2 linked regions of the Homo sapiens genome follow. The protein of the gene in region 1 purifies or fractionates together with the protein of each later gene. This does not show direct contact. Each region holds a gene or a part of one and is shown in the gene's direction. Other genes may lie near its edges.

Evidence for each region.
Region 2: the proteins of GNRH1 (region 1) and EMC8 purify together in Homo sapiens (affinity purification with mass spectrometry; one large-scale study listed by BioGRID and IntAct). This does not show direct contact.

Annotation. Positions count from the first base shown.
Region 1 is NC_000008.11:25,421,167-25,425,912, reverse strand, and holds the start of GNRH1 (progonadoliberin-1 isoform 2 preproprotein), read left to right. Parts: upstream 1-1,651; 5' UTR 1,652-1,712; exon of another isoform or gene 1,713-2,570; coding exon of another isoform or gene 2,571-2,582; coding exon 2,583-2,723; intron 2,724-4,244; coding exon 4,245-4,340; intron 4,341-4,746. UniProt on the Homo sapiens protein: Stimulates the secretion of gonadotropins; it stimulates the secretion of both luteinizing and follicle-stimulating hormones.
Region 2 is NC_000016.10:85,789,545-85,793,044, reverse strand, and holds part of EMC8 (ER membrane protein complex subunit 8), read left to right. Parts: intron 1-111; exon of another isoform or gene 112-748; coding exon of another isoform or gene 749-823; intron 824-3,500. UniProt on the Homo sapiens protein: Part of the endoplasmic reticulum membrane protein complex (EMC) that enables the energy-independent insertion into endoplasmic reticulum membranes of newly synthesized membrane proteins.

The DNA of each region.
Region 1 (4,746 bases):
AGTCTGTCCCTACTTGCATATTGTAGTGAGATGAGATTCCACTCTTCATGTCAGAATGGCACTTACATGAGTCAAAGTGTCTAAATGAAATAATTTAAATGGAACAAAGTCAAATACTTACATTTTATTTTTAAATTCTCCTCTATTTGCAGTTATACTTTAAAGTGTACTCCCTTCTCTATCCTATCATGAGGACTGGACAGCCTCCACAGAGATGGCTGGACAAAGCAAGGGAATTTACTTAGGTAAGACACCATTTCTCTTTACTCTGAAATCCCTGCAAATGTAGTTATTCCAGAGGAGACTGTGCAATGACTGATGGGTTTAGCATCCTACATGAGGGGAAATTGCCATTCCCAGCTGTAAAATGAACAAATATCCAGTTATTTTTTTTAGCCATCTTACAGCTTAGCTAATATAACAGGATTTACAGCCAATTATACATGAAAGTTTAATTCTGTGTCAGATAAAGCATATCTTTGATGCAGAAATAGAGGCAGCATTAGGCCTTACCTGGTTAAAAGCTTTTTGCTTTCTATTCATTCATTCGTTCATTCATTCATTCAAACCTATACTTACTGAATGCTCACTAAATGCCGGGGGTTTATTAAGAGAGATTTAAATAAGATGGGATCTTTGACTATTACAGGTTTCAGCCTAGGGGTAAATTAGGGGAAGACAACCATGTATTCAAATAAATGTAATTAAGAGTAATGGTTGTGTGTGTATTTTACATGCTTGTCCTGTGTAAATAACACGTCCACGGTTGCACCTCTGGGGTGGAACATCTATAAAATTTAGATAATGATACCCACTTTGCATGGCTATTGTAATGAATGCTCTTATACATTTGCTATTTATTAAATAACTATAATTTCTCATCTTTCTGTTCCCACTGCCCTTAAGAGTGATTTGCATATTTAACTCAATAAGCATCTACTGAAATGAGTTGATCTGTTGATGTAAGTCTGCTCAATATGGTCTTGCTCTCAGAATATGTTTCTTGCCTTTTTGATGCTTTAGAAGGCTTTCAAGGTAAGTCAAGCAGGGAACCTGGTGGGTAGATGAGGGAATTTTCAAACACACAACTGTCTGATTTAGGATCCTACATGGACTTGGTATATAGTGTCACTTACTTGTAAATCAGATTTTTAAAATTGGAAGCAACTCTGTGATCATCTAGTCCATCTAGTCTACACCCTTCCTTTTACAAATGAAGAATCCAAGAGCCAGAAGCTCCCAGACATCCTGACTCAATGTCCTATATTTGTTGTATAGCCTCCTTTGTGGAAGTTATGTATGCATTTGACTTCACTTAATCTAAGACATCTATTTTCCTTGAACTCTTGATAGGTCTGCTGGTTTCCTCAAGGGAATCCAATCTAGCTGGATTTTAATCTCTTTGAATTGTGTCCTCAGCTATAAAAGTTTTAGCTGAGGTTTTAATGGCTGCACTTAAGTAAATCTAACAGATATACCAGGGGGTGTTCCAATTACATACACCATTAAAGGGCTTTATGTGAGGATTTTTAAAAATTACCATTAAAAAAAAAAAAGCATAGTCCATTTGCAGTATAATTTACCAGCAGGAAAGATTTCAATGTCCTGGAAAAATTCCCTATAAAAAGGAAGATAGGAAAACAGAAAAGTCACAGTACTCAACCTACTTCAAGGGAAGATTGGGATCTTTTTGGCTCTCTGCCTCTAAACAGGTAAAAGGCTTTGTATTATTTCTAGCACGAGTTTTTCTTCTTTAGATTGCATGCTATTGTATGTCTACAGGGCATTTGACAGCCCAAGGGCTAAATCCAGGTGTGACGGTATCTAATGATGTCCTGTCCTTCACTGTCCTTGCCATCACCAGCCACAGAGATCCAGGCTTTGGGGACTCCCACAGCTTATCGACCAGTGTTTGATTTAGTTTTTAGCCTCTTTCCCATCAAATGAAAATTAACTTGGAGACACATTTCATTAGAAAATTAGAGGCCCCCTTGGCTAGGAAGGCATCTGGTCTGGGACTAACTACTTTGAACAGTGTTGAGTCCTCTCTCCCACAGATGGTTCAGCCAGCAGTAATGCTAGGAAGACTGAAGGATAAATAGAAAAATGTCATTAGTACCATGGGGTAGCCATGTAATGTCAAGCAATTTTATATTAGCCAGAGATTCCTAGTAGGAGCTACTTTTCTTAACAGATGACTCAGTTCTCTTTATCTCAGGAATGAAAGAGTTGAAGACCAATCCACAACAGGGGAAATGTTAAGGCAAAATGATGAACTTGATAAGGGATGAATTATGGGGTTTGGATAACCAAACAATAAAAATAAAAGTATAGACTATTTTAGTACTAAAAAGGTCCTGAACATGTGAGCTTAAGTACTCATTTTGTCCCCAGTGGCTAAGAAACTAAAGGCAAGCCAGCAAGTGTCTCTGAGTTTCAGTGTCTGTATGTAAAAACTGACTCTGACTTCCATCTTCTGCAGGGTTAGTGATACAGATGCTAGCTTTTTCACTAAAGAGGTCTTTTAGTTTATACTCAACCTTGTCTGGATCTAATTTGATTGTGCATTCATGTGCCTTAGAATGAAGCCAATTCAAAAACTCCTAGCTGGCCTTATTCTACTGACTTGGTGCGTGGAAGGCTGCTCCAGCCAGCACTGGTCCTATGGACTGCGCCCTGGAGGAAAGAGAGATGCCGAAAATTTGATTGATTCTTTCCAAGAGGTAAGTTTCTCTCAGCTTCAAAATAAGACATAGTGATTTTATTCAATTTAACTATATTAAACATTCAGGATAGCCCCAATGTCAATATTCTATGATGTTGTACCCTAGATGCTCCAGGTGAGATAAGGCACTTACAAAGTAGAAGTCCCATTCCTACTTTCAGTTCACACAGGGACTAAACAAAGAGCTGGAAAAATTCCAAAAGAATATATTAATAGCAACAAGTGTGAGACAGCACGTCATACTCTGAGTGTATGGGATTGCTAAAGGAATTAGAAACAATGGGATAGGGTCAAGGTCTGTATCAGAAGATGATTCTTTGGGATTTGGAAAAAACGTTAGAACTTCGTTTTTTTTTTCCTCATTTCATCTTTTAAACATATCTATGCTATTAGATCAGTACATTTTTATAATTTATAAATGAGTATCCTTATCAAGGATGCATGCCCTATAATTTCTTTTCACTGATAGGGGCATTTAAGCAAAGTTGGAGACTGGTAGAATACAGGAATTAGCAAACTCAAGATGATAAGATAACGTAGTAGAAAACATGCTGATTTAAATTCATATAGATTAGATTATAGGACTGGCACCAACACTAACGTGAGGTACTTGCTTTCTTGTTTTTTGGGGTTATTTTCTAAGACAGGGTCTCGCTGTGTTATCTAGGCTGGAATTTAGTGGCACGATCACAGCTCACTGCAGCCTTGACTTCTTGGGCTCAAGTGATCCTCCCACCTCAGCCGTCTGCATAGCTGGGACCACAGGCATGCACTATCACACCCAACTAATTTTTAAAACTTTTTATAGAGATGGGGTTTCCCTATGTTGCCCAGGCTGGTCTCAAACTCCTGGGCTCAAGGGATCCTCCCACCTTGGCCTCCCAAAGTGCCGGGAGGATTTTTGTTTATAAAATATGACCACTCATCAGGGTCATGTAAGGAAAGAAGCCATCTATGTTAGCTGATTAACCTGAAAAATAACCTAGGACTGAGAATGGGAAAAATTTTAAATCATTTCATTATCATTGGAAGGAATTATCTCTTTTCTGAGAAATAATAAAGATAATTTAGTATTAAAGAAGACCCAGAATCTGAAGCCTCTTCTCTGCAGGTTATACATGAAGCAAATCTCATTGAACTATAACATATTTAGTAAAACCTAGAAAATAAAAACCAACCTTTTTTTACAACTATAAACTCTTGGGGGTTTTTTGCTTTTTGTTTTTTTGGGTATACTGACTCTCATGAGGCTCAAAGTGCCTCCCTCTTTTCATCTTTAAGGGGAAAATATGATATCTTCTTACTGTCTCCATTATCTCCAGATCCCCATGCCATTCAGTAGAAATGTCAGATGGCAGATCTGTGTCCTTAAAGTCCCTATGCTAATCCTGCAACTTTCCCAATCTCCCCCAGCCCCACATCCCCCTTGACCCCACTCTCCACAATTTTTTGGTGGAAATGGAAAACACCATTTCATTTCTTTATCTCCATCTCAAAGCATCACATTCTCTTTCTTCAGATAGTCAAAGAGGTTGGTCAACTGGCAGAAACCCAACGCTTCGAATGCACCACGCACCAGCCACGTTCTCCCCTCCGAGACCTGAAAGGAGCTCTGGTAAGTTAAAGTGATCATAACATGATCACAGCATAGAGCTCTAGAGGTGGATAAGCCTTTGGGGATCACTTAGGACAGCTACCTCCCAGATACTGTGGGGCTTACATTCCTGACTCCTCTGTTACCTCCTGTGGTAGGACCGTGTTTCATGACAATCCCAGTTGGTGGTTAGACAGCACTAGGGGCTGAAACGTTTTTTTGTTTGTTTGTTTTTTCTGAAGTTGAATTGAAATCTCTCTGTAACTTTTATCTCTTAATCCTGGTTCTAGCTTTTGGGATAACTAACAAAACAAATTTCTTCCCACTGCTGCATTTCATTTCTTCAAGTAAAATCACCAAACCCCCTAGACTACTCCACTCCAGGCTACTCCACAGCCCTCCACCTGATCCTGCAACTGTGCTTTAT
Region 2 (3,500 bases), on another chromosome or scaffold:
GTGAAAATGTCCTTTCTCTCTAAAAAGTAAATGAAATTGCATGAGTAAGTGCAGAATGCGGAAGGTGTCTATATCAGAGTCAGTTTGACTACATTGACAACAGTCTCCACAGAGTTTTCTCCTGACCTTTTATTTTCATCTTGATTTTTCACAAGATGCACATCAGGGTGTGGGGTGTCGTACAGCGAAGCAGGGACATGGAAATGGATTCATTGGGAACAGAGGTTGAGTGGCTTCTCGGCTGTGCCTTGTCTTGCCTCGCTTCGGAGGAAGCTAGTTGCCTTGACTCCTAGCTGCCACTTAGATCCACCGCAGCTTTTCATGCAGGAGCCATTTGGGCTGAGGGCAGGATCCTGCAGCCACTGGAGACCTGGCTGCCACACCCACACCTACACCACCAGCAAGCCCCATCCTCTTCCCCCAGCCCACTCCACTCCAGGGCACTCTCACCTGATGCCTAGTTCCAGATTCCGGACTGTCACAGGAAACTACCCTTATTAGAACTCATCCACCCTGCCGCTGTGAGTGCTGAGGCTTGGCCGAGTCTCCGTTCCTCCCTTCGAGTTCTCCATTCCTCAGTTGGTGAACGGGCTGTGTGCACCCCTCATAGCCATCCATACAGCTAACTTGGTTATTCTCATGTGTGTCATTCAAAAGTTCTAAATTCTAAAGCCAGGCCAGAGCTTTTGTGACCTGGTTCGCTTTAAGGGCAACCTCTTCAAAGAGGTTCTACTTAAAGTTCCAGGTCATGACATTTTTCTGCTGGAATTTGGTTGGGCCCTTGGAGTTTTCTTACAGGAATTTGTCCCTCAGCAGGCAAAATGTAAGTTGAGATATACATGTGTTTGTCATAGGAATCATCTTTTGTACCAGGTGGTTTCTGTGCTCTGAGAGTGGGTACAAGGTGATACCATATGTGTTTACTGGGCTATGAGTCCTAACCAGGTGGCTTCAGCCCAGGAAAGAGATGGAGTAGCCAACTGAGACTGCTGCTGGGGGTCTTCAGGAAGTTGCCTGTAGCTAAGTAAAAAATATGTCCTATGGTTTTTCCTAGAAAATGTTGTATGGTATGGTCAGCTGAGTAATAACCCCCCAAATATGTCCACATCCTAATCCCCAGGCCTTATGTAGCAAAAGGGATTTGTAGATGTGATTAAGTTAAGGGCTTGAGGGTGGAGAGAATATCCTGGATTACCTGGGTGTGCCTCATGTAATCACAAAGACCTTTGTAAAGGGGAGGCAGGAAGGTCAGAGTGAGAGGAAGAGATGGATGATGGAAGCAGAGGTCAGAGTGATGTGGCCATGAGCCAAGGAATGCGGGCAGCCTCTAGGTGCTGGAAAAGGCAAGGAAAAGGATTCTCCTCTAGAGCATCCTGAAGAAGCACAGCTCTGCTGACCCATTATAGACTTCTGACCAGTAAGATAAAAAATTTTGGCTGGCATCATCCTCAGCAAACTAACACAGCAACAGAAAACCAAACACCGCATGTTGTCATAAGTGGGAGTTGAATAGTGAGAACACATGGACACAGGGAGGGGAACATCACACACCAGCGCCTGTCAGAGCCGGGGAGCGAGGGGAGGGAGAGCATCAGGACAAATAGCTAATGCATGCGGGGCTTAAAACCTAGGTGACGGGTTGGTAGGTGCAGCAAACCAGCATGACACATGGATACCTATGTAACAAACCTGCATATTCTGCACATGTATCCCAGAACTTAAATAAAAATTAAAAAATAAAACATGCACTTTAATCAAGTACGGTTTATTTCAGAAATGGAAGAAATTAGGGAATTTGAAGTTAGAAAATCCAAAAAATGTATGCATTAAAAATTCTAAGAAAAACAATCATATGATAATCTCTATGGATGGTGAAAAATCCTTCAATAAAATTTATTTCTTGCCTTAAAAAAAAAAAATTGGGCATGGTGGCTTGTGCCTGTAATCTCAGCACTTTGGGAGGCCAAGGCAGGAGGATTGCTTGAACCCAGGAGTCCAAGATCAGCCTGGGCAACATGATGAAACCTTTGTCTCTACAAAAAATTTAAAAATTAGCCAGACAGGATGGCGCACACCTGTAGTCCCAGCTACTCAGGAGGCTGAGGTGGGAGGATCACTTGAGCCCAGGAGTTCAAGGCTGCAGTGAACTGTGATCTCACCACTGCTCTCCAGCCCGGACAACGGAGCGAGACTCTCAAAAAAAAAAAGTGTTGTTTTAAGCCACTAAGTATGTGTAACTTGTCACAAGGGCAATAGGAAACTAAGACAGTGGCCAATCTGACTGTGAAAATAAGGGCAGGCTACACTGGAGAGCAGGGATAGGGACACCCGGGGGGCAGAGATGTGGGTCACCTTAGGGGAGGACACACTCAGGAGGCCGGCCCATGATGGCACATGAAGGCTGGGAGCACGGTGCTCAAGGATCAGCTCATCAGGGAACTTGACCAAATTTAGAGCAAGCCCCTTTGATAGTGTATAGAGATGTTTGTTCTAAGCAGCAATAGAAAGCTTCTGGAATCTGTTCCATTAAGAGGTGATAGAAACAAAATATGAGTCGTTTTGGAGTTGTTTTCAGCAAAGTCACAATGATAGCACCATTATAGATATTTTACAGACATAATCCTGATCTTTTGGGTGGATGACCAGAATGTCTAGTTGGTTCACTGAGCCCTGGTTTTGACCCAATATGGTAATTCGTGAACTCTTAGGAGGCCAGAAATATCCTAATCCTGTGCAAGGCAGGGACCCTTGGACTGTAACTGTCTTGTCTGCTTTTGGTCGTGAAGGAGACTCAGAGGCCCAAACAAGAATTTAGGAAAAAGAGCAATAGGATTGTGTTTAAAAAACACACACATCCATTTTTAACCAGTTTATTCCCTACAAAAAAAAAAAAATCAAGGTACCAATTTTGTTTCCTCTTGTGCAGACTGAGAATAGACTTTATTACAGTGTATTCAAATTCCATTATGCCAAAACAGGATGAGCTTTTGTTGTTTTGAATAATGGCCTTAGACCTGCAGGAAGCTGCATCTGGTGAGAAACATGGTACCATAAAAGAAACCCAAAAACTTCAAAGGTCTGCCACCTTGCTTCCATTTCAAAGCACGCCGGAGAGAACTAAGGACATGTGCACGTGCCCCTTCCTAACTTGGGACCTCTTTACCCTACACCCCAACTGAGGGGTATTTCATGATGCGGTGCTTAGAATGCTGAGATGGAGTATAAAAGACTTTTTTTTTTTTTTTTGAGACGGAGACGGAGTTTCACTCTTGTCACCCAGGCTGGAGTGCAGTGGCATGATCTTGGCTCACTGCAACCTCCCCCTCTGGGGTTCAAGTGATTCTCCTGCCTCAGCCTCCCGAGTAGCTGGGATGACAAGCGCCCACCACCACGCCCAGCTAATTTTTGTATTTTTAGTAGAGATGGGGTTTCTCCACATTGGCCAGGCTTGTCTCGAACTCTTGACCTCAGGTGATCCGCCCACCTCAGCCTCCCAAAGT